7 linked regions of the Homo sapiens genome follow. The protein of the gene in region 7 purifies or fractionates together with the protein of the main gene of each other region. This does not show direct contact. Each region holds a gene or a part of one and is shown on either strand. Other genes may lie near its edges. The genes, in order: RPA3, CTSV, AMBRA1, ARFGEF1, DNAJB4, QSOX2 and TBC1D22A.

Region 1 (4,665 bases), on a different chromosome or scaffold from region 7:
AGTGATGTCATGTTTTAAGCATGTTTAGTTTGCAAAGGTCCTGCTTTTGATCCTTTAGTTGTCACTTTTTTAATGCGGCTCCTCCTGAATCACAAAGGTACTGAAAGTAATTTGCTTCATTAAGGTCTGTTGCTGACACTGTTGTATTTCAGTCGTCATTCTTCTCTTAGCCTCCTTCATTAAGACCTTATTCAAATTTGGATCATGGTTCTGCTGCGACATCCACGCCATTATCATCTAAATAGCAATTACATATTCAAACACAACAGCTTCTCCTTAACTGTCTGTAACTTAACATTTTACATAGATTCAAGTGGGAATTAAGAATAAAATGAATCTTTTCTTCGTGATTTACAACCCTCCCTTTCACCCTTGGTTTACTAGTTAATGTTGAATAAGCTACTTGTAGACGAAGGAAGACAAAATTATTGATTGCTCAGCTTTAGTTTTGTAGAGAGATATATATTATAAATTGTTTCTGTATTAAACAGTTACCCAAGTGTCAGTGACCCTTATTCAATCACCCATGTATTTATTAGACAGCATTTACCATTTTGGATATAAGGGGATCAGGTCTAACACTCTGTTAAGAAATTAATAGGATCTTTTACAAAAGCAGCAGTGCTTTATAACTTGAAACATTGAAAGGAAACCTTTAAAAATAAGTCAACATATTTGTCCTTTTGGGACAGACCTCAAAAATAGAAGCAAATTCCATTAAAGTAGTAATATACTTTTCCTACTACTTCGTTTTGGCCATCTTAAAATTATATTTTATAATTAGTAAATAAGCTGATTTGACTGAAACGAGCAACTATGTTTATTGGAGACAGACCCAGCTTTTCAACAGATAGAATGTTAGGACTTTTTTTGCCCATTAATATGTGGTTTAAAGGGAAGTTATAACAAGACACCAAATGCATATGTATATATACAAATACAGGCAGTTGTATGTTTTTAAGAAGTTTTTAACCAGCAAGGGGTGTGTGTTTGTGTTTGTGTGTCTGTGTGTGTGTGAGAGAGAGAGAGGGAGAGAGAGAGAAAGGGAGAGGAAGGGAGAAAGTGTGGGAGGAAAAGAGGAGAGGAGGAGAAGACAGAAGAGGAAAACAGTCCTAACTATTAAAAATACCAATTAACTACTTAATAACACATCTTTCAGTGTCTTGCATAATAATTTCTTAGATATTTTGCAAAATTCGGCATGGTTAAGGGATTTTGTAATGGTTAAATAATTTTATTAGTTGTTTGAAATTGACTGTCTTTGTTTTCCTATCTGTGTGCTGAGATTTATCTCAATTATATGTGTGAATAATGTTATGCATGGGGTTACTTTTAATATGGATTTAACTGAGATTCTAGACTATATTCTTTGTAAATATGAACATTAGAAACTTGTTCAATTGTGGGTCGTCATTAATTCAAGTCAGGAAGGCTCACCCTTTGTCCTCACACCATCTCTTAAGAAGATAAGTCCTGTGGATAAGCTGGAGAGGTCAGATGTTGGTGTTGACTTAAAGCATTGCCACCCGAGGAGGGCAGAATGCTGTAAAACAAAGCAGAAGGAACTGTGTGGAGAGAAGGTGAATGACTGGGGGACTTGAAGTTGAAAGAAAAGTCAGGCGCTGAGCCTGCAAGGGCAAAATGAGGCTTGTGGGATAAGAATGGTTTGTCAGAAGTCACCTGTTTGCTCAGAAGTCATCTTTCCCTAACAAGGGTCTGTTTGGTATGTTCCTGTATTACAATTTATAATAACTGTTTTTTTACCTGCTGAGGGTAAGATCTTTAAAGTGACATCTTACCAGCTATTATTCTTAGCTCTTGCTTATGCAAATCTCAATTTGAAAAATAACCTTTTAAAGTTTTTTTTTTTAAATAATGAGAACATATTCAGAATGACAATGTGATGAACACCTGTGTACCCACCAATTGGTTTAAGAAATATAATTTCTTGTTAACCTTGAAGTTCTCTAAGTCTTCTCCTTACTCCCACCTCAGAGGTAAATTCCACTCTTTAAATTCTGCTTTTTTGGGGTCTCTTTTTAAATAGTGTTAACATATTTTTCATATGTGTAGTTTTGTATGTTTTACAACCATATATAAATCGAGTCACTCACAATGTATGTACAATATGTTCTTCAGCAATTTGCCTCTCTCACTCAGTATCATGTATCTGGTCTCATCTATATTGCTCTATGTATCTTTAGTTCTTTCATTTTTATTTGACATTCCATTGATGAATATACCACAATTTATATATCTGTTCTGATGATGAACATTTGGGGTTTTGTTTTGTTTTCCTAAAAACAGTGCTGTTACTGAACATTAGTAGGCAGAAGAAAAAACAAAACACCTTGATCTGTGTCTCACACTTTATGCAAAAATTGCCCAAAATGAAAGGACTAGTCCCTAGAATAAGTACTTGCAAAACTCAGCAGTAAAAAACAAAAAACAAAAAAACATAAAACCAAATTAGAAAATGGGCAAAAGACATGAAGAGACATTTCACTGAAGAGGATATACATATGGCAAATAAGCACATGAATAAGTGTCATTAGCCATAATGCAAATTAAAACCATAATGATAGGTCTCTACAAACCTGTATCAGAATAGCTAAAATAAATAGTAATAACACCAAATGCTGGTAAGGATGAAGAGAATCTGGATCACTTATTGATGATAGGAATGTAAAATGGTACAATTACTCTGGAAAATAGACAGTTTCTGAAAAGCTGAATATGCAGTTACTATACGACTCAGCAATTACACTTTGGGCATTTATCCCAGAGAAATTGAAGACGTATATGTGCATAAAACTGAGTATTTATAGCAATTTTATTCATAATAGACCCAAACTGGATACACACCAAATATCCTTCAACAGGTGAATGGTTAAATCTATGGTATATCTATATCATGGAATAATACTCAGCAAGAAGAAGTAACAAACTGTTGATATATACAACAACCTGGATGAATCTCCAGAGAATTATGCTGAGTGAAAAGAGCCAATCCCTAAAGGTAACGTACTGTATGACTTCATTTATGTAGCATTCTTGAAATGACCAAACTGTACACAAAAAATAGAGAAATCATTGGTCGCCGGTGGGTAAGGATGGGGTGAAAGTTAGAGGCAAGTGTGTGTGGCTATAGAAGGATAACACTGGGGATTCTGGTGGTTATGGAGATGTTCTGTATCTGGTCTGTGTGAATGAAATATCCTGGTTGTGGTATTGAACTATAGTTTTGCAAGATGTTGCCATTGTGGTAAACCAGGTAGAAGCTACATGGGATATTTCCATATAATTTCTCCAATCTGCCTGTGAATCTAGAATTATCTGAAAAAGTTCAATTAAAAGACAACATGATGCTGTTACAAACATCCTTGTACATGTCTCCTGGTGCACATATGTGAGCTTTCCTCTAGATTTTATTTCCGGGAGGAATTACAGGCTATGCACATGTTAACTTTAGTAAATCATGGCAAATTTTTTTCCCAAGTGGTATATGAAAATTCTATCCTTTTCATATTATACTCTATCCTTTTTAAGGATATTGTACTTCAAGGATATTATACTCTATCCTTTTTAACATGTAATACTGTGAGACTTAAATTTTTATCAGTCTGTTGGTTAGAAAATGGTATCTTGTGTTTTTAATTTACATTTTCTTGTTTATAATGGAATTGGACATTTTTATTTATGTTTAATAGTCATATGTGGTTTTTTTGCTCAGTAAAATCACTATTGATCTCTTTTCCCTGCTGTATTGTCTGTCATTTAAAAAGTTGATTCTAAGGGGATCTAGTTACAAATTTTGTTGCATTTTAATGACTTATGTTTTTCTTTTTATCTGTTAATGAAGAGACATTTTGATGTGACAGTTTTAAAATATATAAAACTTTTCCTTAACTTTCATATTTCAGTCTGATTTAAAAAGTCCCTTCTTGGAGATCAGAAAGTCATCTTCCTATAGCATCTTCTTATAGCTCTATGGTTAACTTTGGTTATAGTGTGGTATAGCGATCCGATTTTAATTTTTTTTTGTAGGGATAACCTATTTTCTTAGTACTATTTTGGATTAATTCATCTTCTTTTCTTCACGTATCTTCCAAGCTTACTCTTACATATATAGTATCTTTGGTTCTCCTACTTTATGAGGCTATTTTTCTCTCTCTTAGCCAATGTCATAAAGCTCATTATATTACCATCCTTTAAAACCATCTCAACCTTCCTTTGTTCTCTGCTTTTCTATATAATGAAGCATCAGTTGATCTTATGCCAAATAAATAAAAAATGAATAACAGATGGATAATCACTCAAACCTACCCACTCTGATGTGATTTTTGTTGAAATTTTATTGAACATATAGATTAATTTAGGGGAGAATTGCTATATTTACAATATTTAGTCTTCTTCAGAAATATATTTCTGTCCATTTGCTTAGGTTTCCTTAATACATTTTTGTAAAATTGCCATGCATTTTTCATAAAAATCACATTTCTGCTTTTGTCAGATTTATTCTTAGAGTGCTTTTTTGTTTTATTATTATAGTAAATATTTTTAAAGTTGTATTTTCTGTTTGTTGCCAGCATAGAAACATGTAGCTGATACTTGTAGCAACCATCTTGATAAAATATTTACTTCCCATAATTCATCTTTAGATTC
Region 2 (4,648 bases), on a different chromosome or scaffold from region 7:
CTTCCAGTATGTCAAGGAGAACGGAGGCCTGGACTCTGAGGAATCCTATCCATATGTAGCAGTGGTAAATGGAGCTCCTTATCTTGTCATTCGTGCTCTGCTTTTGGAAAGTGGAACACTTTCAGAGATAACAGATACTTTTTTCAGAATTCACATTTTATATGGTAGAATCTACATCTGCAAACCGTGAGTATTGTCATTATAAATTATTAGCCTTTGGCCAGGCGTGGTGGATCACCTGTAATCCCAGCAGTTTGGGAGGCCGAGACAGGCGGATCACGAGGTCAGGAGATCAAGACAATCCTGGCTAACACAGTGAAACCCCGTCTCTACTAAAAATACAAAAAAATTAGCCCGGCCTGGTGGCGGGTGCCCGTAGTCCCAGCTACTCAGGAGACTGAGGCAGGAGAATGACGTGAACCCGGGAGGCGGAGCTTGCAGTGAGCCAAGATCGCACCACTACACTCCAGCCTGGGCCGCAGAGCGAGACTCCATCTCAAAAAAAAAAAAAAATTATTAGCCTTTGCACAGTTCTCTGGTGAGATGGTCAACAGCTAATGGTTACCATATAAGTACCATTAGATGGTTAACACACAGCTGTTCTTGCTTTTACATAACATGGAGAATAAGCAAACCATTCTACATATAATAGAACTTTATCCATTGTGAAAAATTTTTTATGGACAGATTGACCTAGGGGTTCTCATTGAAGAAATGTCAACTAATTTTTCATTTTCAAATCAACAAATAGCATTTTATTTCATGGGACGATTTATAAGGGTGTTGATTTGGAAATCCTAGGTTGCAAATTGCTGAGTGTTTCGGTTCTAGAACTAATGTTCCCCAGGAGGTAGATGGTAGTGATCAAGTCTCTCCCCCTTTAACTTTAAAAGGATGAAATCTGTAAGTACAGACCTGAGAATTCTGTTGCTAATGACACTGGCTTCACAGTGGTCGCACCTGGAAAGGAGAAGGCCCTGATGAAAGCAGTCGCAACTGTGGGGCCCATCTCCGTTGCTATGGATGCAGGCCATTCGTCCTTCCAGTTCTACAAATCAGGTAAGTGTCATTTTATTATAGAAATTTAGGCAGAATTGGGAAGCATCACTGTGATTGATTCTTGGATATGACATCCTGCTTTGCAGGAATGTAGTATTTTGAGAGTGAGCATTTAACATAGTGATGTTTGCATTTGACATGAGAAAATACTTAGTTATGTTAAACTTCTCATAAATATTTTTAAATGGCTATGTAATTGTATAGAGACAACCTAATTTTCCAAACTATTTTCCAGTTGTTGGGCCTTTTTTTCTCAAAGTTTTTTACTACTGTAATTAGGACTGTAAAGAATCCCCTTCAAGTTTTTGTTTGTTTATTTTGGTGCTATTTTAGACTGACATCCTAGGAACAGAAAGGGATTATGCGAGTTGGTATTTGGGCTCAGAGATATCTAAATCACCTTAGCTGTAAACAATAGGTTTTATCTTTTGGATTTTCATTTTTTTTGGTAGAAAATATCTTGAACTTAGTTGAAGTTAGTTGATTTCTAGTGAGTTGAGGTTGACTTTTTTCCTTTATCAGCCATTACTGTTTTCCGGCCAATATTGTTTGGGTCCTTATTTGGCATTTGTTTATGACATTTTACTGAATTTAGAGATGCCTCCCTTATGGAGGGTGGTAGGGTGGGTTACTGTCACATGTCGCTTGGAGCTTCTCACCCCAGCATTAATTTTACTCTCCCAGGCATTTATTTTGAACCAGACTGCAGCAGCAAAAACCTGGATCATGGTGTTCTGGTGGTTGGCTACGGCTTTGAAGGAGCAAATTCGAATAACAGCAAGTATTGGCTCGTCAAAAACAGGTATAAAACTCAAAATTGAAAAGGGAATTTTTGTTCCAAATCAGTATTTGGATACAAGTTCACAAAAGCTCAATTTCAAAATTCCGAAAGTCTTTCTTCTACTTAGAGTGAACACAGAAATATTAATGTTTGATTATAAGATTCCGTACCAAGCTTTTTGGAGTTATTGCTATGTATTTGTAATATTTTATTACTAAGTTTTGAAAATTTTTAAATTCTGAAACACATTAGTCCTCAAGGGTTTCAGACAAAGGACTGTGGACCTGTAGGTTTGAGAGCTGATTGCTTTTTTCTGTCTAATTTTTCAACAAGGAATAGTAAGCAGAAACATCTGCCTCTGCTGGTTCTTTGTTAAGTCTGAGAGATCATCCGGGAGTCCAGTGGTCTGTGTGCATCCTTCTATTGTCATTGGATGCCCTGTCATCGAATTTCACTCCCCAGCTCTCAGGCTTTGAAGGTTGTCAGAATCTATTTTCTCACAATTAGCATTCTTTAATTGAGATGTGACATAAGGTAGTATGTGGGGACAGACTGCTACAGTGGAATTCCAGTTCTGCCTCAGTATCTTAAATAGTTAAGGACCCACAAGAATCAATATATTCATTCATTCATTTGTTTATTTATTTTTTGAGACAGAGTGTCGCTCTGTCACCCAGGCTGGAGTGCAGTGGCACGATCTCAGCTCACTGCAACCTCTGCCTCCTGAGTTCAAGTGATTCTCCTGCCTCAGCCTCCCAAGTAGCTGGGACTACAGGGATGTGCTACCATACCCAGCTAATTTTTTTTGTATTTTTTAGTAGAGACGGGGTTTCACCATGTATGCCAGGCTGCTGTCGAACTGACCTCATGTGATCCGCCTGCCTTGGCCTCCCAAAGCACTGGTATTACAGACATGAGCCACCGTGCCCAGCCAGTTTTATTTTATTCTGAGATGGAGTCTTGCTCTGTCACTCAGGCAAGAGTGCAGTGGTGCAATCTCGGCTCACTGCAGCCTCCACCTCTCGGGTTCAAGTGATTCTCCTGCCTCAGCCTCCCAAGTAGCTGGGACTATAGGCATGCGCCACCACGCCTGGCCAATTTTTATGGGGGTTTTTTTGTTTGTTTTTTTCTTTTGAGATGGAGTTTTGCTCTTCTTGCCCAGGCTGAAGTGCAGTGGTGCAATCTTGGCTCACTGGAACCTCTGCCTCCTGGGTTCAAATGATGATTCTCCTGCCTCAGCCTCCCAAGTAGCTGGGATTACATGCCCGGTTAATTTTTTTTTTTTTTTTTTTTAATTTAGTAGAGGCAGGGTTTCACCATGTTGGTCAAGCTGGTCTCAAACTCCTGAAACCTCAGGTGATCCACCCGCCTCAGCCTCCCAAAGTGCTGGGATTACAGGCATGCACCGCACCTGGCCAATTTTTGTATTTTTAATAGAGACGAGGTTTCACCAGATTGGCCAAGCTGGTCTCAAACTCCTGACCTCAAGTGATCTGCCCACCTCGGCCTCCCAAAGTGCTGGGATTGCAGGCGTGAGCCACTGTGCCCAGCCTCAGGACATTTATAAATGGATATTAACAGCATTTAGAATAGTGCCTGACACATGGGAAGCACTGTTTAAGTATTAGCTATTATTATTAATGGAGCCAATTTTCCCTTGATTCCTTGTATAAAATGGAAAACCTGCTCCTCTTTCAGCTGGGGTCCAGAATGGGGCTCGAATGGCTATGTAAAAATAGCCAAAGACAAGAACAACCACTGTGGAATCGCCACAGCAGCCAGCTACCCCAATGTGTGAGCTGATGGATGGTGAGGAGGAAGGACTTAAGGACAGCATGTCTGGGGAAATTTTATCTTGAAACTGACCAAACGCTTATTGTGTAAGATAAACCAGTTGAATCATTGAGGATCCAAGTTGAGATTTTAATTCTGTGACATTTTTACAAGGGTAAAATGTTACCACTACTTTAATTATTGTTATACACAGCTTTATGATATCAAAGACTCATTGCTTAATTCTAAGACTTTTGAATTTTCATTTTTTAAAAAGATGTACAAAACAGTTTGAAATAAATTTTAATTCGTATATAAAGGTGGGCCTTTTTTTAATGCATTGGCTTTTTGTGTAGTCAGGAAATATAATTAAGCTCTGAAATAATAACTTCATGTGCCAATGGTATGTTAGGAGAAAGATGCTAGCAGAAAGCTGGCTTCCTGGCTCTTGAGTAGTTATAAAAATACAGACTTTATATCAGCTGCCCAGTTACTGTGTGTTACCCAACTCCTGAATCTACCAAAATTTGATAAACAATTTGGAAGGACAAACCTACATTTTTTTTTTTTATGAGACGGAGTCTCTCTCACTCTGTCACCAAGGCTGGAGTGCAGTAGTGTGATCTCAGCTCACTGCAACCTCTGCCTCCCGGGTTTAAGCAATTCTCTGCCTCAGCCTCCCGAGTAGCTGGGATTACAGGCGCGTGCCACCACGCCTAGTGTATTTTTAGTAGAGAGAGGGTTTCACCATCTTGGCCAGGCTGGTCTTGAACTCTCGACCTCGTGATCCACCTGCCTCAGCCTCCCAAAGTGTTGGGATTACAGATGTGAGCCACTGCGCCCAGCCCCTAAATTGTTTTAGTAAAGAAGAAAGCAGTTGACTTTTTAGAAAAGGAAATGTCTTCTTCCTTTGACACATAACCTCAAGATGGTTAGGTTACGTGATAAAAAGTGAAGCTGCTTGTTACTGGAGCCTCTCTGAATTGCTGGTGACCACTTTGCAGTCTGAGGAAGACGCAGGTGCAAGTAAGTTAC
Region 3 (4,220 bases), on a different chromosome or scaffold from region 7:
AAAAGTACGTGCTGCTGGCAAAAAGCCCTGGAATTGCTTGGATTTTCCATTAGAGCTCTTGAAGAGTTGGGGCAAATATCCTTTTCCCACTTGAGACGGAGTCTCACTCTGTTGCCCAGGCTGGAGTGCAGTGGCGTGATCTTGACTCACCGCAACCTCTGCCTCCAGGGTTCAAGCCTCCCCAGTAGCTAGGATTACAGGTGCGAGCCACCACGCCTGGCTAATTTTTTTGTATTTTTAGCAGAGACAGGGTTTCACCATGTTGGCCAGGCTGGTCTCAAACTCCTGACCTCAAGTGATCCGCCTGTCTCGGTCTCCCAAAGTGCTGGGATTACAGGCGTGAGCCACCACGCCTGGCCAGCTGGAAGCTTTCAAGCAGCCAAAGCCCACGAATAGAGCAGGCCTTTCGGCCACTGTAGGGAAGACACAGTCAAGGGAGACCTGAGCAGCTAGCAACTGGCACCTTGCCTGCAGATAGGACCAAGCCCCTCCACCTGCCTAGCAGGCTGGACACCTGCTGTGCGTGCTTTCCCAGGACTGGAGGGGATCCAGGTTTCTGGCCAGTTACATCACTTCAGGCCTGTAGTCCTGGGTGGGAAGCTATTAGGATGAATAGCCTTCTGTCGTTCCTTCCTACATACTCACCCTGGCACTGGAAGGTGGCCCCAGTCTGTAGCAGGCCCTGGGGAAGCAGGAAGTGGTGGCGTACAGAGAAGTGGTATGAAGCAGAGGTGGCAGCCCTCACCTGACCAGCTCTGGCGAAGGGGTCAGAGGGGTCCACTGCACCCCACTAGGAGAGCACCAGAAACAGTGCCGGGAGAACCTGGGCCTGGCCCAGTTCAATGCCCCTCACTTCCCAATCCCCACCCCTCCCCCATCCTCCTTGGAAATAAGAGAGAGGAGCCTGGCGAGGGGCATGTCATCATTTTAATGATGTGATCTTTGGTGTTTCCCTCATTAGCTGTAGACTATCCCCTCTCCTCCCACCACAATGTTTCTATGATGAGTTACAAACAGAAAGGAAATCACATTTTCATACTAAAAACAAAATGATCAGAGCCTTGATTTCTCCACTAGAAACTACACGTACAGTTAAGAGTCCACATGCAACACCTTAAATCACAGACTGAGACCTCACATTCTGACCTGGAGTCTCCTCCCCTTCCCCAGCCTTGGGCTAGCTTTGGCCTAGGCTCAGGTAATACTGACACCCACAGGCGCTGCTCTGAGGGCCTTGCGGGGAGAAGACTGGTGGACAAGCCCTGGGGGCTGGCCAGCCTACACCCCCCACTCCTGAGTGAGGACCTGCCCACTGTCCCTTGACCCCATCCTGTATCAGGCAAGCAGGCGCCCCCTTACCCCACAGTAGTCCCCCATTAGTAAATGCCGAAGTCCCTGTCCTCAAGAATCTGGGAGCCTGGCCCGATCCCTGTTGGTTTCAGTGGGGTAAGACGACGAAGAGAGGCTGAAGCTCTGGAAGGCTCAGAGTTGGAGGTGGTGTCTGGGTTCCTGGTGGCTCTGCCCACCCAACAGGTGGACAGGGCAAAGCTGCCTCGCGGGCCTCTGTCCAGGATGATTGGCCCAGATCTGGAAGACTGTTCACTCTCTGGAGGCTCTCTGTCCAGGGCTGAGTCCCCTGAGCCCATGTTACTAGGAGAAAGTGGGGTGCCTGGCAGAGATACCCACTTGTTCCTCTATTCACATTAAGCCCACAGTGTGGCTCTCCCGGGCTCCAGATCCTGGAAGGTTCTAGTTCCCCGAGGCAGGCCTTGCCCATTTGACTGTCTTGTGCCCACTGACTGATCTTCCTCTCCACCCTGACCCTCTTCCTCCTCCTGTTCCCTGATGCAGCCAGCAGCTCTTCCACATGTCCAGTTCCCAGTCAGCTGTGAGGTCCGGTTTCTGCTTGGCGGTTCGAGGGGAGGCACCAGTGCAACGTTTGTCTCTACCTGTTCCGTGGTTCTCCCCTAGGGCCTGCAGCGTCCCCCCTGCTGCTGCCACCATCCAGAAGGTGGTTGTTATTGGTCAACTCGCAGTGGAGGGTTGGTCCCTCAGCGCTGGGAAGGGAAACAGGAATGGGGACAGGGGAGGAAGAGGGCAGGGTTGGCTGGGTTGGCTCCCGCCCAGGGGTACCAGGCTGGTCCCAGGAAGCTGTCCGGGGGCTTAGGCCTCGCTCTGCCAGTTGCCCGGCCTCTGGGAGCAGTCCCCGAGAGGTGGAGGGCTGGGGTGAGGAGGTGTGGGCGGCACCAGGTTCAGTGCCCGTCTGAGAGCTGCGGTGAATGCGGTGGCTGACGATGATGTTGTTGCCGAAGCCGCCCATGGAGGCCATGGTGGTGCTCTGCTCCCGCTGCACCACGGCTGTCATGCCGCCCTCCGCCATCAGCCTCTGGATCCTGCTGAGCGCATCTTCTCCACTGGCACCATACTCTGAACCCTCACCTGGCAGATACAAAGCAGAAGAGAGAGCGAATTGGCTGCTGGCCTGGGCCTCTGAGGCAGGTGGGCAGCCACCGGTAGCAGCTGGGGGATTCTTGACTAAACGCAGGATAGAGAAAGACTCGCTCCATCACTGTGAAAACCAATCCGAGTCTTGAAAGCTAGACAAAACCCCCAAAATGTTCACAATCCATACTTCTGTTTTACTGGTGGGGAAACTGAGGCCTAGGATGGCCAGTTAAGAGGCAGCACTGGCCCAGAAGGCAGCAGGTTGGCCTCAATGAGTTCTCTCAGCACCAGTGGCAGCTTAGCATGCGAGAAGGCAGGTTCAGACAGCTGGTTTTGTCTGCCTGCTCCCTGTTGTGGAAACTCAGCAGACCTAGGGCTGAGCTGGGGTATGCCACCCTTTCTCTGCAAAGAGAGTAGGTACCCTATGGGTGTGGCCCAAAGGGAAACAGTCTGCTCTGCTTCATTACAATGCTGTCTTCCTTCAGCGTAGTTTTGTGTTACCTCCTCAAAGCCCCTGAGGAAGCTGAGAGTTATTTTTATATTGATTGATTGATTGATGGAGTCTCACTCTTTCACCCAGGCTGGAGTGCAGTGGTGCGATCTCAGCTCACTGCAAGCTCTACCTCCTGGGTTCACACCATTCTCCTGCCTCGGCCTCCTGAGTAACTACAGGTGCCCGCCACCACACCCAGCTAATTTTATATTTTTAGTAGAGACAGGGTTTCACCATGTTAACCAGGATGTTCTTGATCTCCTGATCTCGTGATCTGCCCACCTCAGCCTCCCAAAGTGTTGGGATTACAGGTGTGAGCCACTGCGCCTGGCCTATTTTATTTATTTTTGAGACAGAGTCTTGCTCTGTCACCCAAGCTGGAGTGCAGTGGTGTGATCTTGGCTCACTGCAACCTCCGCCTCCCGGGTTCAAGCAATTATCCTGCCTCAGCCTCCCAAGTAGCTGGGATTACAGGCATGCACCATCATACCTGGCTCATTTTTGTATTTTTAGTAGAGATGGTGTTTCCCCATGTTGGCCAGGCTGGTTTCGAGCTCCTGACCTCAGGTGATCCACCCTCCTCGGCCTCCCAAAGTGCTAGGATTACAGGCGTGAGCCACCACGCCTGGCCATATTTATTTATTTTTTTGAAATGGAGTTTTGTTCTAGTCGCCCAGGCTGGAGTGCAATGATGCGATCTCAGCTCACTGCAACCTCCACTTCCTGGGTTCAAGCCATTCTTCCGCCTCAGCCTCCGAGTAGCTGGGATTACAGGTGCCCGCCACCACACCCAGCTAATTTTTGTATTTTTAGTAGAGACGGGGTTTCACCATGTTAGCCAGGCCAGTCTCGAACTCCTGACCTCAGGTAATCTGCCTGCCTCAGCCTCCCAAAAGGCTGGGATTATAGGCATGAGCCACCGTGCCCAGCCTTTGTTTTTTGAGATGGAGTTTTGCTCTTGTCACTCAGGCTGAAGTGCAGTGGCACAATCTTGGCTCACTGCAACCTCCACCTCCCAGGTTCAAGCGATTCTCCTGCCTCAGCCTCCTGAGTAGCTGGGATTACAGGCTCCCACCACACCTGGCTAATTTTTTGTATTTTTAGTAGAGATGGGGTTCCACCATGTTGGCCAGGCTGCTCTCGACCTCCTGACTTCAGGCGATCCGCCCACCTAGGCCTCCCAAAGTGTTGGGATTACAGGCGTGAGCCACCGTGCCTGGTCAGAAGCTGAGAGTTTTAACTGTTCCTTGGAAGGGCTGTTTCCTTCTCTTCTTTCCCTTTA
Region 4 (4,665 bases), on a different chromosome or scaffold from region 7:
ATGTAGTATTTCCATTTTTATTTTGCTCTAGTTAATATTTTTAAATCATATTAACATATTTTAAAATATACCTAATAATTAATATATTTGACAAAACACTTGATTTTATGGTCTTTAACTGTGAGATTGTGTTTATAAAGAAGAGTTAATTTGATTAAAGTCAAAATAAATCCAAAATTTTAATTACAAATATAGATTGTTACCTGGTTCTTACATCTAATTTGCATCTATTGATGATACAGGATAACTCAAAGAGAATTGGGAACCATCCTCTCACCCACACCCTGTCTTCAGGTGCTACGTTCATATCATCGCTTGTGTATTCCTTGAAAGCCTTCAAGAAAAAAGGTAGGGTTATTAAAGGCAAAACATAACACCCATACATTCAGTATACTAACTTCTCAAAAAATAATTTAAATGCTTCACAAATAACCAGTGAGCAATTTAATAAAAAATAATTTATAAAAAATGGACACTATAACTGCCTACAATTTTAGTATATGTGCCACTGAAATAGGCAAAACATAACTGCCTATAAAGAGCTCTGGACTAGAATCCAAAAGTTAGCTTCACTTTCAACTGTCACCAGCTTTCTGCATTATTAGCCAGGTTAATTCAGGTTTCCATTTTTATCACTTAAATGGTTATGATACCAGACAGCCACATTAACCACACTGGTGAAGTATGAAGGTGAAATGAGTTGACGTATCTAAAAAGTACCAAGCACCTGATCGGTCCATGGTAGTACGGAATAAAATCTTATTACCAAATCTACGATACATCACTTTCTCTTATGACAGTTACAAAGATAGATTCAAATATACAAGTTAAATATGGCAGCTAGATTTTCAATTCAACCTTTTACTTTAGAGCTTAAGCCTATTCTCATCCATAGTCAGTCAGCTTCAGTATTACACAGCACAGACAGACAAGATGCACTGTAGGGAATGGTTAGAAACACAGGCTGGGGCTCAAACCCTAGTTCTACTTTACTAGCCCTGAAACTATGGGCACATTTTAAAATTTCTCTGTGCCTCAGTTTCTTTGTCTGTATGGGGCTATAACACTATCTACCCCATAAAGCCATTAGAAGATTAAACAAGTTAATACAAGTTAATGAAAAACACTCAGAAAAATACCTGACACTTTCAATAATGGTTAGTTATAATCACTAACCATCCTAACTTGGAATCAGGCTGCTCAGATTATTTTTCAAATTACTGAAAAATAAATGCTTCATATACCCTCAATTCCCAAACAAACTTAAGATTTCAAATTGGAAAGAATACTCTGCAAAATTTTGTTTACTAAATGACGCTATACCTGAGGTCTATCAGACACATATTTTGCACAATGGCGAATAAGTCGAATTGCTTCCATACTTGTGTCTGGGAAAGCTGCATTGCACGCAAATTCAGACAAACACTTCACTGCATCCTGGAAAGAATCAATGGTCGCTGGAAAGTGTTTTTCAAATACAAGGGCTAAAATAGAGAAAAATATATATTACTATAATTTTTCAATTATTCTTAGCTGTACCAAAAATACACCAACATCTAGATGTAATGCACTTCCTCTTAAAGGTTGTTACAGGTTCTGACATCCAACAGATACGAAGTTCAAGACTATCTTTACCACTTAACTGACTGCCCTGAGTGGTGAGAATAGTAAAACTTGTCTGTTTTGTTTACATTATAAACATAGCACCTAATACAGTGACTGGTACACGGTAGGTACTGATTCAACTTTGGTTGAATGAATATACAAAATTACTTAACCTCTCTGTATCTCGGTTTCTTGATATAAAATGGAAATAATAATAATATACACAGATAGCTGTAAGCACTACGTAAAATAATATAAGTGAAGTGCTTAGTGTAATACTTAAGCAAGCACGCAATAAATGATAGCTATGATGATGCCATGATTCTTGATGTTGATGGTCATCATTGTCATCTTCCATATAGGCTTAACTTATAATCTTAGTATTTCAGTCAGTCCCCCTTGAACTTAAGGGGACTCCTCCTTGAAGAAGGCTGTGCAATGTACTTACTGGTCAAAAATAAAGGCTTTGCTTTAATACTCCATGGGTCTCAAGACCATCTCCATCACTAGTTCTGTGACCTTACATAGACTGCTTAACCTTTCTGGGGCTGAGTTTCCTAATCTATTTTGAAAAAAGGGATGGACAATAATGTTTAACTGTGAAGATTAAAGAAATTACGTGAAAAGTGCACACAGTATTTGCCATATGGTAAATACTCAATAAATGTTAACTATAATAGTAATTTAATTGTTTTTATTTACTCTGGTTCTGTAGACAAAGCTTGGTAAACTTAAAGGCCATAATCTTATTGTTACTTGAATCATCTTCTGAACACGTTAAGGTTGCTTTTTTTTTTTCCTTTTACTTGAACACAGCTAAGAGAATACTCACTGACAATGTGCCCGGTTGTTTGGAATGCAAGTTCCACTATGCTTTCATCTTGATCAGATGCAGCTAGATGAAATACAGAGAAAATGTTCTTCCATCCAGATCGAATGTTAGCAGCTTGAGAATTAACCATCTGTGCTATACACCGTACAACCATATCTCGAATTGTTGGAGACCTAAAAATATTAATATAATTGCTTGGATATGCAAACCGATAAAACTCATCAGTTTTTCCCCCTTTCTTCTGTTTTTCTCCCTGCTGTGGAAAACAACAAGATTTTCCTTCTATTAAGCAATTCAACAAATATAGTACCTGTTCCGTTTCATTATATGTTCAAAAGGTCTTAAGAAATCCTTCTGGAATCTGAAGTTAGCAAGCTCCCCTTTCTCTAAGAACTTCATTGACAACTGCCTCAAGGAGTCTACTGCAAAAATAGCTACATCTTCATTAGGATTACACCCAACCTGTAATGGCGACAGAAATAAACGATGCTAATTAATATCAGCAGTAAAAATCTACAATTCTTTATTTTTTGTTTTAGAAAAAGTATAGAATAGCATAGATAGGTAAATCCTAAGATTTTCCATAAAGGCATTAAGTATGCTAAAACTATTTCTCAACAAGAAAAACAGATATTTTAAATCAAATTCTTAAAGCCCAGAGCAATCATTTCTAAAAAGAAAAACACCATTCACAGGGTTTTCTAATTTAATATTAAAAAGTAATAAATAATTGCTTGGAAGGGAAAAAGGCTCAATTTGATTACAAGGACATTCTAAACAAAAAATATACTACAAATGTAAACAAACACCATAGTTATTCAAATACCTTATTAAAATGATCTCCAATAACTTCCCAAATTCGAGACCACTGTAATCTTATTCTTCCCATGTTGTAATATGATATTTCTACTATTTTTTGTAGACTAAACATTCTTGGGTGTGTCGTGGAAAGTAATTCATCCATAGACACAGCACAGAGCCAACGGACAAAATCCACTGTAATATAAATACATTTTTTTTTTAGCTCAACATTAAAGTTATTTTAGCCCCAAGCCAGTTCCGAAGTAGAATAAATGCCCATACTTACCAATGGCATTTCCATCTAGCCTTGTAGATCCTGTGAATATTCTAGGGAAAATAAAACACAATTTAAAAAATTTATAAGTTACTGTTCTTATTCCAATTGAAAAGTATGTGGCATGGGGTACTAGCTATTTTTATGTTTTAAGGGAACAAAAAATTGGGTATTCAAATGAGTATTTTTCATCATTTAGTTTAGTAACAAGTGTAGTCTGGATGTTTCTCCCTCCCCTCCACCTCTACTCCATGTGAACCAGTTTACATTCAATATTATTATTAGGGTAAGTATATACTGCTGTAATTTTATCAGATTTACAAACCCCGGATAGATATGAGATTCTAAGAATAAGAAAAATATTAATTTGTAAAACTAATAATTGGCACACTACAGATTCTTTCCTGATTATTGTCTAGCATTAAGCAAGTTCTTAAAATGAAAAATTTGACGTATTTTTACCAGTAAAGTATATTTGATTAGAAAGTTCATTTACACTAAAAGTGACTTAATATAACCTTGCAAATAGTCTCAGTTTACCCAAGAATTGGCCAAACCACTTTCCTTAGGGCATTCAAATGTTTGGAGTTAAGCTAACACTGCCCAGCTTTGCCCATTCTTCTTTGCTGAGCTCTTTTTTTGTTTCAAAGTTTCATAAAAAATTTCAGCATAAACACATTAGTCCTCCTTTTTTAAAGTCTGCATTTTAACCCATATTCTGGGTTTGCAACCAAGAGTTTGACGTCACTTTCAAGAAGGATGACATTCCTCAACTTAGAATGCACAAAATAGGATTTGCATGATAAAAAGGAAAACTTTAAAGGCAGGAGCAGGTCACAGTAGTCATAGCAGTAACAGTAATAGCTACCAATCACAAGATGGGTTCTTTTCTAGTGTAATATCAATATTCACTCATTTGATAATCACAAATTCCTTATGAAGCATGTACTATTAAATCCCCAATTTTATAAACACAGAAACTGAGGCACAAAGATATTTAATAACTTCCTCTAAGTCACAGAACTAGTAAGTGCTAGAGCCAAGATTCAAACCAGGACAGGGTGATTACAGTCTATCCTATTAACCACTTTTCTATACTGCCTCACACTTACCTGAGCAAAAGGTATATTCAACCCTTTTTTCCTACTATCAC
Region 5 (3,526 bases), on a different chromosome or scaffold from region 7:
ATTGTCAATATCCTTTAAGATAAGAGAGATACTGGTATACTGGTTTTGTGTAGTTATGTAAATTTATTTACTACTAGAATAATAATTCTCTGCTTAAAAAAACTTTTTAATCCAAAGATTATTATATATCTATCTATAAATCATTTATTTTACCTGGGAGAAAATGCTTAATCAAGAAAATTGCAATAAATAATGATGGGTTTAAAACAGAAACCACTATCATTCACCACGTTGACTGATGCTTTTCAGATCTAGATCTTTAGACTTGTGAGAAAATTTCTGTAATGTTCACACTTCTGTAGGGAGTTTTAACTGTCATTCAGAGAGACAGTTATAGAGGAATCATTTATGAATTAGAGTAATAAATACGATTAGCTGAATTCTGTGGCATTTTTTTCAAGCATTTTCCATTTGCAACTCAAATATATGGTTACTCCCAGAAATTCCACTTTTAGGTATATACCCATGAGAATTGAAACACAAAAACTTGCACACAAATGTTCACAGCAGCATTATTTATAATAGCCAAAAAAGTAGAAATAAGCCAAATGCCCATAATTAATGAAAAGATAAACAAATTGTGGTATATCCATATGACGTGCCACACAAAAAATAAAGTACTGATACGTGATACAACATAGATGAACCTTGAAAACATTAAGCTAAATGAAAGAGGCCAGACCAAAAAAAAAAAAAGCCATATATTGTTTGAGTCTATTTATGTGAAATGTCCAGAACAGACAAATCCATACAGATGAAAAGTAGATGGTAGTGTTTTCAGGGGCTGGAGGAAGGGAAGAATGGGAAGTAACTGCTAATGGATTTAGGATTTCTTTTTGGGGTGATGAAAATATTCTGGAATTAGAAAGTGATGATGATTGTACCACTTTGTAAATATCACTAAAAACCACTGAATTATATATTTTAAGGGTAAACTTTATGGCATGTAAATTATATCTCAATAAAGTAATAAAGAATATGGCTATTATAACCTATTTATATTGGATTTCTAAAAGAATATTTCATATTCTACTAAAAGGCGATAGGATCCAGTATATATATATATAATCCTGAAAACTATTTTATAACCAAAAATTTTGCTTCAAAACATCATTCTCACTATAGTTATAAAACAGAAAACAAAACTAAATTTTTAAAACATAAATATATTTAAAAAATTAAAACACCTAAGAAATGCAATCTATACATGTGAAAAAGTAAAATATTTATATGCATAACAAGTAGTTGCAACATTATCCATAAGCAGCAGTTAGTGTTTATTTTCCCTATATTTTGGTTTAACACCATAGTGTAGTGGTAGTTCATTCTTTTTAGGGAAATTACATAAAGTACATATAGAATATTATTAGTAAGTTATAGAAGACTGTATAACTGGAAAATTAATTCCAAGTAACAGCATTTCCTCTAAAAACACATCTATTATTAAACGAATTACTTTAAACTAGCAGAGAACAAAATGAGCCTATAATTTATTAAGTACAAGATATATAGTCAACTTGCATAAAATTACATATGGCATTTTAAAAAGTCTATTCTAAAATATCAGTAATTCAAGCAATTGGGATTTCCACAGGAGAGAAATTGCCATTACTTTCCTTTTTATGAAGAAAGATCTGCCTTAAGAACATCACAACGATGTTATTAAGAAATGCTACAGCATACTTTAAAAATCAAAATGGTGAAACAGATGCATCAGGATATTCTTTTACAGATACCAGCCCTATAGCAGCATTTCAGAAGGTGATTTAAATCTAATAACTGACTTGGGTTTTTATTCTCTTCTAGAAATACATATTACATGTATAGTTTAGTTAAGAATTTTCATTTCCATTATAAATGGGAACTTTTCATACTGATTATCTAAAGGTATAAGAAATTAAGTAATTGGATAGTCTAGCACTTCATTAGAAATATATCCACTGACTCCACAAAAACAACTTTTACATATAAGCAAATTACTAAAAATATCTGAATCAGGAGAAATGAAATAAAATACAGTGAATGGTTTTCTCTTTTATCTCTAACTGTAAAAATCCCTTTTGCCTATTTATTTGACCCGTCTCTATTCATGCAATTTAATGAACCCTCAAAAGAATTTACACATCTTTATACAGAATTCACATCTACATCAGTAAACTACCAGTCCTTTTATATTTTCAGTGCCTTATCAAAATATGTGTAACAAAGTTCTTCATTCTATGAGGCAGGAAGATGTTTCCTAAGTACTTCTTTGGATGAAGAAGATATAGTATCTGGGAAGGACACCTCAAATTCTATTAGAAGGTCACCACGTTGGTCAGGATTTTTTGGAAATGGCAGCCCATATCCAATAATTCTTCTCCTCATTCCGGGTTTCACAATATCATTTACTGACATAGGTATGTTTCTTCCATCCAGTGTTGGTACATTAATTGAGCAGCCACACAATGCCTAAAATGGACCAAATAAAATAAAATGAAAACACTTCAAAACTCAAAAATCTAAGCACAAATTTTACCAGATGGTAAAGGATAATACCACTAAGGTAAAACTTTAACCTCCAAAAGAATAACAATAGTTATAAATTTTTTTTCCTCATTAGAAAATTCCTTCAGAGGTCAGGCACGGTGGCTCACACCTGTAATCTCAACATTTTGGGAGGCCAAGGCGGGCAGATCACCTGAGGTCAGGAGTTCAAGACCAGCCTCACCAACATGGAGAAATCTTGTCTCTACTAAAAATACAAAATTAGGCGAGCGTGGTGGCACATGCCTGTAATCCCAGCTACTCGGGAAGCTGAGGCAGGAGAATCACTTGAACTCAGCAGGCGGAGGTTGCAGTGAGCCGAGATCGTGCCATTGCACTCCAGCCTGGGCAACAAGAGCAAAACTGTCTCAAAAAAAAAAAAAAAAAAGAAGAAAGAAAGAAAGAAAAAGAAAAAGAAAAGAAAAGAAAAAAAGGAAAATTCCTTCAGGACATGCATTATTAGATATGTTACAAAAAAAAAAAAAAAAGAAGAAGAAAAGAAAAGGTAAAAGAGAAGTAAAGGATATATTCCACATTGCCCTGGAATGACATGGTTATTTTGAAGCTGCTATTAATATATTCAAGATGCAGGGATTGGAATGGGAGAAGAGGGAGAAATTCAGGACTAGAAAGAACTGGATAGGAGCAACTATTTCTCTGGAAAGTATTAGGACAAGAAATATATTTGTTTTAGATAACAAATGTTTACTGAGCATTTACTATATGCCACACATTCTGGCTAGATGGTGAGCCTTATAGGGACCATGAACACAGACCCCAGCTCAAGGAATGCACAAGGAACTCACAGAAACATAGAAGCAAACTAGCCATTATAATACTGTATAGTGTAAGAACAGAGGTAAGCATGGAGGTCTTTTGTAAGAGAAAGAGCACCCAACTTAACCCCTTAGATTCCGGGAGTAGAGGATGCTTGAACTAAGCATTGGGCAGTAGCAGGTAGGTATTAGAGCAGGGTAAGAAACAATAGTGTTCCATAGAG
Region 6 (4,665 bases), on a different chromosome or scaffold from region 7:
CCCCACGCAGGGGCGAAGGGCTTATCCTCATGAGGGGCACACGGGCACCCCACGCAGAGGCAAAGGGCTTGCCAAGGTTCTGCAGTTCTTAGAGAAAGAGCAGAACGTGAGGGGCAGGGCCTGGTGCCCACCCCTACTTCTCATTCTGCAGAGGTGGGCACGTGGGCTTGTCTGCCAGCCCCAGACACAGACCCAAACTGCATCCCAAGAGTCCACCCAGAGCAGGGTTTTAGGAGCATCGGCTGCTCCCAAAGCCCCGGCCCAGCAGCCCTCATGCATGTGCTGGTTTAGCCACGGTTTCCTCTGCGACTCTTGGTAAGTCACCACGCCAGGCTCCTCCTAGGTGCGGGGACACAGCAGTGAGAAAACAGAAATCCACGAAAACACAGCACAGATCAGCAATACCCACGGGCTGAGAGCCAGGGCCCAAATCTGCCCAGGGAAGCGAGGCGGAGGGGCCAGGGCTCCCCCGATCTCACACCAGACTTGCACTGTCTACTCGGAGCCTCTGTCCGGTAACTCCGAGCGGCACGGAGTTCCCAGACCCCACCCGGGCACTCACACGTTAATCAATCCATGCGACCCATTTGGGTAGATCAGGTAACACGAAGGGACTGAAGAAACACCAAGTTTCTCCAGAAATGCTTTGTCCCCGTCCAGTGCTCGGGTCACCACGATGCTTTCATACGGGATCAGGTCTAAGATCACCTGGGGGATGAGAACACAATGACACTTCCACAGGGGCTGGCAGTTTCTCAGAAAACACGACGTGCAGACACATGGCCTTGCAGGGAACCTTTCACAAAAGGGCATGAAGTCTGTCCCCCTGCAGGCAAGACCCTCACTCAAATCTTCACTCTCATTGCACTTTAAGGCAACTGACGGCACACACGCCATGAGCAGAAACCACGGTCTTATTCGGCAATTTTACAAACTCATCAAAGAAAACACTTATCCGCGAATTTGCACTTGACTTTCTAAAACCAGCGCGCCCCCCACAACACTGATACTGGTCAAGTGAGTCCCTGCACACAGCAGCCACACCCCACGGCCTCGCACTCCCGTCCCGCGTGTGGAAGCTTCGTGGCCGGGGCAGCAGGCCTCGTGCTGCCGCTCCTCCCCAGCCACCCTGCTCCTGTCTGGTTCTGCTCAGGCTGAAGGGGCAGCAACAGGGTCTCCGTGGCAGAGAGACCACAGGAGTGGCATCTCAGGATTTTGGAAGAAACCCTGCGTGCGCCACCACCACATCGGGCGTACGTCTTTCCTTCTCTTAACAGAGGAACAAAACCAGCTGCTCCTCAAACCAAGGGCCCTGGCTAAAGGTGTGAACTGGGCGCCCCGCGTGGCCGTGCCTCTCCTGAGCTGGGTGTGTCTGCGAAGAGCTGATCGCTACTCTGGGGCCACACTGGTCTCTGCTCTGGGCCATGCCGTGACTCTGTGCTGAAGAGCACTCCTCCTGCACGAGTGGAGCCTGGCTGCCCCGAACGCACCAGCATGCCAGGCAGGTAGGGGAGCGTGCCCGGCACCAAGACGGTCCCACACCCGCCTCTTCTCAGGGGAACACCTGCCTCTGGTCTGCGTGTGTGGAGGCCCCGCCCGAGACAGCAAGGGCACGAGGGGCCTTGGGACAGGGGTGAGGGGTCTGGGAGAGCCACACACTGCTAGCGGTTCCTCAGCCCTCCACAGAGAATCCTGGCCAACCATCTGGAGGCAGCCTGGCGTCACCATCAAACCTGGAGGGGGCGGTGCTGGGGTGCCAGGAGGGCAGCCAGGGCACAAAGCGAGACGGTCACAGTGCAGGTGTCTGCAGCTGCCTTCCCAAGTGCGTCTCCAAAAGCCCTCGCAGGGGCAAAGCTGTTTCCTACATTCACCGCAAGGCCCCTCACAGTGGACAGAAAAACAGTCGCCTATCAAGTTGCAAGGAGGAGGAGGAGAAGCTCAGGGTGAGTGCTGGGCGAACGCATGTGCAGTGAGGCCTTTCTCTCGTCTCCGGGAAGACTGTCAGCAATAATGACTCTCCGTGAGCTGCCCCTGCACCTGGTCCCTGGACCTTATTTAGACTTGGCCAGAAGCAAGGCTTCAGAACTGTACGTGTGAAATCAAAGTATGACGATAGAAACGACGTTTTACAGAATCTTGGATTTGGCAAAAATGTTGAGAGTTCAGAATACGGCAACGAAAAAAATCTTAGTAATAATGCATACAAAATACAGAATGACCTCAAGGTGAGCTGGGCGTGTCATAAAAATGAGATCTTCTGCAAAGCCCCCTCTTAGTTTCAAACCTAGGGTTAGGCCACCTTCTGAACCCCTCCCACCGCCAAGCTCATTCATCCTAACAGTCTTCTCCAGACACCAGTGACTTTGCTGAGTAACATTAACTAAGCTTCTGATAATGAACAAGACCTAAAGCCACAGACAGGACACGAGATGCCGACACAGTGACCGGCACCTGCAAATCTCATCACAGATCCACCGCCAACCCCAATCACACCACGTGTGACACCTGGAGCCCACGCAGAGGCCGTACCTCCCGTCCAAGGTAGGAGCTGTTGCTTTCAAAGACAATAGCCACGTAATGGCTGCCACGGTTGTCAAGAAGGGAAAGAACATCACTGGGCCTTTCAAGAGGAAAAAAAGAGGCTTTTAGTGCCGTCAACAGCAGCGAGTTGGCCACCACATCCCAGTGGCCACATCACTTAATAGAAACCTATTACGTTTCTTGCACAGTTCAACACGAGTCTAACGGCCGCCTTCTTCATGGAGCTACTCACTGAATGGGGTCTAGGCGCGGGCAGGCAGGGGGCCGGCTTCCTTCCGTGTGGTTCTGCAGGAAGTCAATCATCGTCTGTCTGACTGTTCGCAGCTCTCGGTCAGGTCCTGCCGGAAGCACACCAGGGTCAGAGCTGTGTGTGCGGCTGTCCTCGTGGGGCAGGCATACACCCAGGGACAGCAGCCCCGTCCCAGCCTGGGGCCCAAAGACAGCAGGGTGCAGGTGGCAGCAACATGTGCAATCCCAATGGGTGTGCCCAATGCCACCCACAGGCGTGGTACAGACAGCGCTGGATTCACACAACTGGAGACCACACAGCAATGACACAAGCATGGGTGGGCCACAGGGACAGGCAACAGAGGCAGATGGCAAGACACGGCACTGCGAGGAGCAGGCCAGGCGGCTCCACTGGGTCACTCACAGGCAGAGCCCCCCCAGGGCGCGGCGAGGAGCAGGCCAGGCAGCTCCACCGGGTCCCTCACAGGCAGAGCCCCCCAGGGTGTGGCCTGCGGGGTCTGATCACACTCTGGGCGATGCTCGGCTGGGTGGGATCATTTGTAAAAATTCATCGGGTGGGTACATGTGATCTGTGCACATCTCCAAATATTTTTACAATAAAAAATTTACTCTGAAAAAGTTTTTACTACAATATTTGCCAAGCAAGGCAAAGCACAAAATTAAAATTTCTCTTTGAAACTATTAATATCTGAACTCTTAAGGGAAAGCAGGCAGGAAGGTCAGCAGAGGGAAAGGTGCTGACCCAGGCTGGGAGCTCCCCAGGCTCTGGGACCGTGTGTCTTTAGCAGGTTTATGAGGGGAATCTCAGGGACTAAAATACAATGCTTATGTCCTTACCTTTAAAATTTTCTCCAGTTGTAAACTCCTTTGTAAATGCTTTAAAATACTAAGAGGAAAAACACAGAACAAGTAAGAGGCAGCCTTCCATGGGCATCTGCATGTGTTTAAGCAACAAAACGCCCGTCACCTTAGAGGGAGCTTTACTCAATTTCCTTCGGAAAGTTTTCATAAATTAATGACAAACCACACGCTTCTCCTTGTCTTTGTGCATATTAATGTTTCCTGTCAGATTTACGAGGGGGCTAAGGTTAGCTCCAATCAGCATTCCCATCATTTACATTTTCTGACCCAACAGGGCTAGAAGCAAGACAGTTCAACTGGGCTGGAATCATAAAAGACACCGCTCTCTGGGACTTGGTAGTGAGCCTATGTCTTAATGGTTAGCTGTAGCGTTAGCTGTGACAACACGGAGGATGTGCAGGAGGAGGAGACACCACGCAGTATCTCTGAGTGGATGATTAGGTTCTTATGTTAACATTAAAAACTTTCTTCATCAAAGGGTACGTTAGAGACAGCGACGAGACAAGGTTACATGATGGCGGAGATGAGGTCGGTAAGAAAAGCACTGGCCAGCTAAGAGGGAAACGTGCAGATGACAGGAAGACACTTCACCCATGACACCCACGGCCCACAAAGCCAGATGTGCTGGCACTGCAGCCGCCAGGGAAATGCAAACGAAGCCGCCAGTGCTTCCTGCTGCACTGGTCCCTGGGCGAGCACAAAACTGCCTGACACTGCTGGCCCTGCAGGTCTGTTGTGCACAGACCCGGTTCGCGGCCCAGTGGCTTCTCTCCCAGCCTCAGCTCTCCCCTTGCCCGGGAAGGCGCACAGCAGCGCCGTTCAAAGCCACCAAAGCCTGGAAGAGCCCACACACCTGGCAACGGGGGGCTCTGGTTCTCAGAGTGACGTCACTGGACAATCCCATCCAATGAGCATCGTAGTGGATCTGGGCAATGTCCCATTAAGTAACAGAAAGAGGGCCCGAAAGTTTACATACAGCACAGTGTGAACTGTGTCTGAAGCAAAATCAAAATA
Region 7 (4,665 bases):
TGTCTTCCAAAGCTATCTTAACTGCCTTATAAAAACAGGCAATTTACTGGCGATGTTTTCTCTTGCTACTAAATACAAATGCAGTCATCGTTTAACTTTGAAAGCTCTGCATTTAGCTTTTTGGTTTTAGATTTGATATTTACATAGAATTATAAAGAAAGAAAAAAACCCACAGTCCCCTCAACCTAACAAAATACTTGATTTTTACGTGCTAAAATCTAGCCCTACATACTCCCATCTTCCTACAAGTCTTGAAAGCTTTACTTTTAAGTGTGATTTTAATTTCCAAAAGTTGGTTCAATTACAAAGTCCTCCAGAATGCTCCAGGTGGGTACTCAGAGCCTGACCCAGCACAGGGTTCCCATCAGGCAAATCTTGCTTTCACCAGCTGTCTCTCCTCCACCTGCCTACTGCTGGAAACCACAGGACACAACCAGGAAAACATCTGTAAGTCCTTGACTCGTCAATGACCACAAAAGTGACCATATACGTCAATAGCACAAAAATCAAGTGAGAAGATAAAAAGGCCAGTTCAAATGAACGTAACAACAACCATAAAAATAACTAACATTTTTGAGTGTTTAGTATGTGCTAGGCACTCTGTTAAGCATGTCATATGTACTATCTCATTTAAACTGCAAAATGAGCACCGCTTTCATCATGTCTATCACGCAAACAAGAACTCTGAGAGCAGGATCATCACCAAGCTGGCTCAAGGTCACGTGGCGAGTAACCAGTGGAGCCAGCTCTCCACACAGGCAGCCCGGCTCCAGGACCCACTCTCCCAGGTGCAACGTGGTTCTGAATCTCCACACCACCCTGGAGGCAGGAGAGCCAGCAGAGAAGGGGCACTGGCATGCTAGAAGAGGAAGTGGCCAAGATGGGTACGTCAACTACAAGACTAGACTCCCGTAAGCACGATCTACCTTTATCTCCTGTCTTGGTGGGTGACACCTCCACACCTGGTGCTCTAGGCGAACTCACAGACCCATCCCCCACACTGCCTTCTCGCCTCACCCATGGCTAGGGATGCTCTGTGTCACCATCACAGAAGGAGGTTCAGGCGCCTGAAGAAACGTTCTCAAGTTGTTTGTAATAATAGCAAGTTAGGAATAACCCGCTGCCCAACCGCAGGGGCTGGTGCAGTCAAGTCGGGGGAAATCCATAGGATGGCATGTTACAGGGCACTCTAAAGACTAAGGCGGTTCTCCACGTACGCCATGGGAAAATGTATCATTCCCTTAAAAAGTGAGGTGCACAACTGCCTTGCCGTGCAAGGGGACAAAGAAATACACTGTAGAAATGCACAGACCCCAGAGCATCTCTCTACAGAGCACTTCATCACCAAAGGAAAAAGGGGAGCTCTTCAGTGGAAAGAGCTGGCAGACGCCACCTCAACCAAGTGATCGGAGTCCACATCTTCAACGTGAGGACCCACCAGCACCACGTGCCCCCGCTGTGATGACCAAGGAGAACACGAATCCCTTCAGTGATGTTCCTGCCAAAAATTATCAATCAGAATCTCATTGTGGGCAAACATCAGACAAGCACAAACCAAGGGACATCCCACAAAATCACTGGCCCGTGCTCTGCTAAAGTGTCAAGATGGAAATGCAGAGACCGGCAAAGCTGCTGCGCCAGGTTAGTGGAGAAGACAGAGGCGTGACATCCAAATGGAACGCATGGTCCCCACTGGAGTCTGGACTAAGAAAAAAGAGGGAAAGGACATTACTGGGACAACTGGCAGAATGTGACTATGGACTGTGGATGAAAATAATACAAGTGTTAAAATAGTACTGTGTCAACGTTAAATTTCCTGATTGTGACCCCTGTGCTGTGATGATACTGAGGGAATGTCTTTGTGCTTAGGAAATATGCAGCGAAGGTTTCAGAGGTAAAGGGATATATCTCCAACTGACTCTCAAATGGTTCAGGAAAAAAATGTATATATACACACAAAAACAGGCACACACATGCAGAATGGTAATGGGCAAACGTAAACAATTGGTGATTCTGGGTACAGAGCATATGGGAGTTGTTGGCACTATTCATGCCAACTGTTCTGCAAGTTTGAATTGCATCAACACGAAACGTTTAAAACAACAGATGCATGGGCCATCGCTGGAAGGAGACACCTCGAGCTGTGGAAAGGAAGGGAAGGTGGGGGCTGGGACAGGCCTCATTTTCACATACACCCTGCTGTGCTGTGTCATGTTATAACACATGCAAGTGTTGCTGTTTCAAAAAAAAACAAACATAAGGAAGAAACAACCACCCACTCTGAGAACTCTACTCAGAGCTGTGTCCTTCTAGCCAGGAGACCTTCCAAGAGCCCTCCCCCGCCTCGAGAACACAGCTTCAGCCATGCCCTTTGAACCGCTGCTTCTGCCCGGAAACCCTCTCCCTGCCCTGGGCTTGAGCGTGAAGGCCCGGCTGCTGCAAGCTCCTATATGGCCCCTGCATGGCTCCTGCGTGGCTCCTGGCGGCCCATCCGCGTGCGCCACTCGCCACCTCCTGGCCAAGCCAGGCGTTGCACCTCTGGCTCTTAGAGTGCCACAGTGACACCAGTCATAACTGTGTGATACAGGTTTGTCCCCTCAATGAAGCAATCTCATGACCAAGGCCACATTCCGGTCCTCCCGAGAGCTCCAGCGTCTAGCAAACACCTAGCCAGAGTGGCACTCCACAAAGATGAGATAGGGAAAGGAAGGACGTGGATTCAGCAGGAATTCCACCAGAGGAACTGAAAGCAAGTGCGTTCCACAGAGCCTGGCCACGGCAGTCCACATGGGCACTGCGTGTGCCTGGAAGCAACTCGCGCAGGAAGAGTCACACTGGTGACTGTGCTCTGCCCTGTGGGCCTGCCCCTCTGCCCCAGCCTCACCCCTGCCCCCTTGCAGGGCTCACAGCCTGTCACCCTCTGATGACTGCAAGCCCCATGGTAGGAAAGTACAAAACCAGCAGATTGAGTTGATGGTCACCAGCGCTGTGCCCCCATGAGCCACTGTCTTCAGAATACTGTCAAGAACAAGGATGTCCACCTGGCCAGCCTCGAAGGGCTCACCAAGGGCAGCAATAATAAAGAGTGCAAATGGGACAACAGGAAAACAGAATGGGCCAGGCGTGGTGGATCACGCCTTAAGCCCAGTGCTTTGTGAGGCTGAGGCAGGAGGATCTCTTAAGCCTAGGAGTTCAAGACCAGCCTGGGCAACACAGGCAGACCCGTATCTGTAGAAAAAATTGTTTAAAAAATCTGGTGAGCATGGTGGCACAATCCTGTAGTCCCACATACTCAGGAAGCTGAGGCAGGAGGATTGCTTGAGCCCAGGAATTCCAGGTTGCAGTGAGCTATGATCACACCACTGCACTCCAGCCAGGCAACAGAGTAAGACCTTGTCTCAAATTTTAAAAAAAGAAAACAAAAAGGAACGCAAAATACATTTTCAAATTGCATGGGAAAAACATTAACAAAACTTGTCTAAAGCACAAATTGCTACTACCTTAGTGACTGACTTGAAAATATTACATGAAAACATCACCTTCCTGCAAGGCAAATTACACACGGACGCGTGTGCATTACATAAGCATACATAGAATCCTTTAAGATGTGATCTATTTCAGAAACAGCAAGAAATGTCTGTGTGTGTCCTCCAGAGGGCAGGGTGCTTACCAAGGTCCGTGTTGGGGCCGGCAAGCAGCTGCTTGAACTTGTCGAGCCGGGAGGCCTCTCTTTCGCTCAGCGCTGAGCTGCTGAGAGTGCTGGGGTCAGATGTGCCACCCAGCGTGACGGTGGCCGAGTGTGGGAGAGACTGGGACCTCTGCAGAGGGGCGGCATCGCTGGCACTTTCTGCAGGGGTGAGAGAATGGGGGTGAGGGTGAGGGCGCTCCTCCCGACTACACGTTCCTCCTTGCTGTGCCACTGTCCCTTTGTGAATGCTGATGGGTCCCTTCTTCCCATCACTCAGCAGTGGGGACCTTGGTTTCTTGAGCAATAACATGGAACTGACACCTTTGAAATTCACTCGCTTCACTGGCAGAGTATTATTCACCAACAAAATGGACCACCTTGCATAAAAGCAACACAATGACAGCCAGAAAACTCCAGGGCCCCTCGGGCTGTGTGGAGGTCAGGCTCCCACCAGTGCCTGGGGTGGCAGATCAGGGCCTGCCCAGGTGACATGACCCAGAGGGTCTGTGTAGGACGGTGCCCTCGGGTCAGCCAGGCCTGAGTGCGGAGGGCAAGCCCGTGAGTTACCATGAGGGAAAGGAGAAAGCCTGCAGAGGTGCTGAGGACAGAAGGCAACAGTGGGGACACAGCAGGAACCAGGGCGCTGCGAGGGCTCTCACCTGCCATCTCAAGAGCGTGCCCAACCCCGCCACCTGCCTGGCCCTCCTGGGTCTCACCAGTGCCCTGGGAGGAAGGTCCCACAGGGACCCTCATCCCAAGGAAACAAAGGAAGCCAGACAGGTGAGGGATGGCACCTTCCCAGACCCCACCACAGGCAGTGACCGCAGTGGCACTAGAGTACAAGCTGCCCGCCCTCCCTCCCGCCCTCTGCTGCTGCCCACCATGGCCCCACTGACCCCCAAGACGGACAGGCCCAGGGGGATCCAAGCAGGTGGTGAGACAGCACGTTCCACCCAGCAACCCGGGACCGGGTCAGC

Evidence for each region.
Region 1: the proteins of TBC1D22A (region 7) and RPA3 purify together in Homo sapiens (pull-down; one large-scale study listed by IntAct). This does not show direct contact.
Region 2: the proteins of TBC1D22A (region 7) and CTSV purify together in Homo sapiens (affinity purification with mass spectrometry; one large-scale study listed by BioGRID and IntAct). This does not show direct contact.
Region 3: the proteins of TBC1D22A (region 7) and AMBRA1 purify together in Homo sapiens (affinity purification with mass spectrometry, with the first as the bait; one large-scale study listed by BioGRID). This does not show direct contact.
Region 4: the proteins of TBC1D22A (region 7) and ARFGEF1 purify together in Homo sapiens (affinity purification with mass spectrometry, with the first as the bait; one large-scale study listed by BioGRID). This does not show direct contact.
Region 5: the proteins of TBC1D22A (region 7) and DNAJB4 purify together in Homo sapiens (affinity purification with mass spectrometry; 3 studies listed by BioGRID and IntAct, with this or other methods). This does not show direct contact.
Region 6: the proteins of TBC1D22A (region 7) and QSOX2 purify together in Homo sapiens (affinity purification with mass spectrometry, with the first as the bait; one large-scale study listed by BioGRID). This does not show direct contact.

The regions. Positions count from the first base shown.
Region 1 is NC_000007.14:7,707,923-7,712,587, forward strand, and holds part of RPA3 (replication protein A 14 kDa subunit), read right to left. Parts: intron 1-4,665. UniProt on the Homo sapiens protein: As part of the heterotrimeric replication protein A complex (RPA/RP-A), binds and stabilizes single-stranded DNA intermediates that form during DNA replication or upon DNA stress.
Region 2 is NC_000009.12:97,031,939-97,036,586, reverse strand, and holds part of CTSV (cathepsin L2 preproprotein), read left to right. Parts: coding exon 1-64; intron 65-893; coding exon 894-1,059; intron 1,060-1,743; coding exon 1,744-1,861; intron 1,862-3,538; coding exon 3,539-3,638; 3' UTR 3,639-4,648. UniProt on the Homo sapiens protein: Cysteine protease. May have an important role in corneal physiology.
Region 3 is NC_000011.10:46,395,505-46,399,724, forward strand, and holds the end of AMBRA1 (activating molecule in BECN1-regulated autophagy protein 1), read right to left. Parts: intron 2,440-4,220; coding exon 1,946-2,439; 3' UTR 910-1,945; downstream 1-909. UniProt on the Homo sapiens protein: Substrate-recognition component of a DCX (DDB1-CUL4-X-box) E3 ubiquitin-protein ligase complex involved in cell cycle control and autophagy.
Region 4 is NC_000008.11:67,224,700-67,229,364, forward strand, and holds part of ARFGEF1 (brefeldin A-inhibited guanine nucleotide-exchange protein 1), read right to left. Parts: intron 3,566-4,665; coding exon 3,525-3,565; intron 3,434-3,524; coding exon 3,264-3,433; intron 2,900-3,263; coding exon 2,748-2,899; intron 2,611-2,747; coding exon 2,438-2,610; intron 1,485-2,437; coding exon 1,324-1,484; intron 335-1,323; coding exon 204-334; exon of another isoform or gene 1-203. UniProt on the Homo sapiens protein: Promotes guanine-nucleotide exchange on ARF1 and ARF3. Promotes the activation of ARF1/ARF3 through replacement of GDP with GTP. Involved in vesicular trafficking.
Region 5 is NC_000001.11:78,014,939-78,018,464, reverse strand, and holds the end of DNAJB4 (dnaJ homolog subfamily B member 4), read right to left. Parts: intron 2,452-3,526; coding exon 2,218-2,451; 3' UTR 501-2,217; downstream 1-500. UniProt on the Homo sapiens protein: Probable chaperone. Stimulates ATP hydrolysis and the folding of unfolded proteins mediated by HSPA1A/B (in vitro).
Region 6 is NC_000009.12:136,221,234-136,225,898, forward strand, and holds part of QSOX2 (sulfhydryl oxidase 2 precursor), read right to left. Parts: intron 3,677-4,665; coding exon 3,628-3,676; intron 2,880-3,627; coding exon 2,774-2,879; intron 2,621-2,773; coding exon 2,530-2,620; intron 709-2,529; coding exon 563-708; intron 1-562. UniProt on the Homo sapiens protein: Catalyzes the oxidation of sulfhydryl groups in peptide and protein thiols to disulfides with the reduction of oxygen to hydrogen peroxide. May contribute to disulfide bond formation in a variety of secreted proteins.
Region 7 is NC_000022.11:46,796,626-46,801,290, reverse strand, and holds part of TBC1D22A (TBC1 domain family member 22A), read right to left. Parts: intron 3,848-4,665; coding exon 3,671-3,847; intron 1-3,670. UniProt on the Homo sapiens protein: May act as a GTPase-activating protein for Rab family protein(s).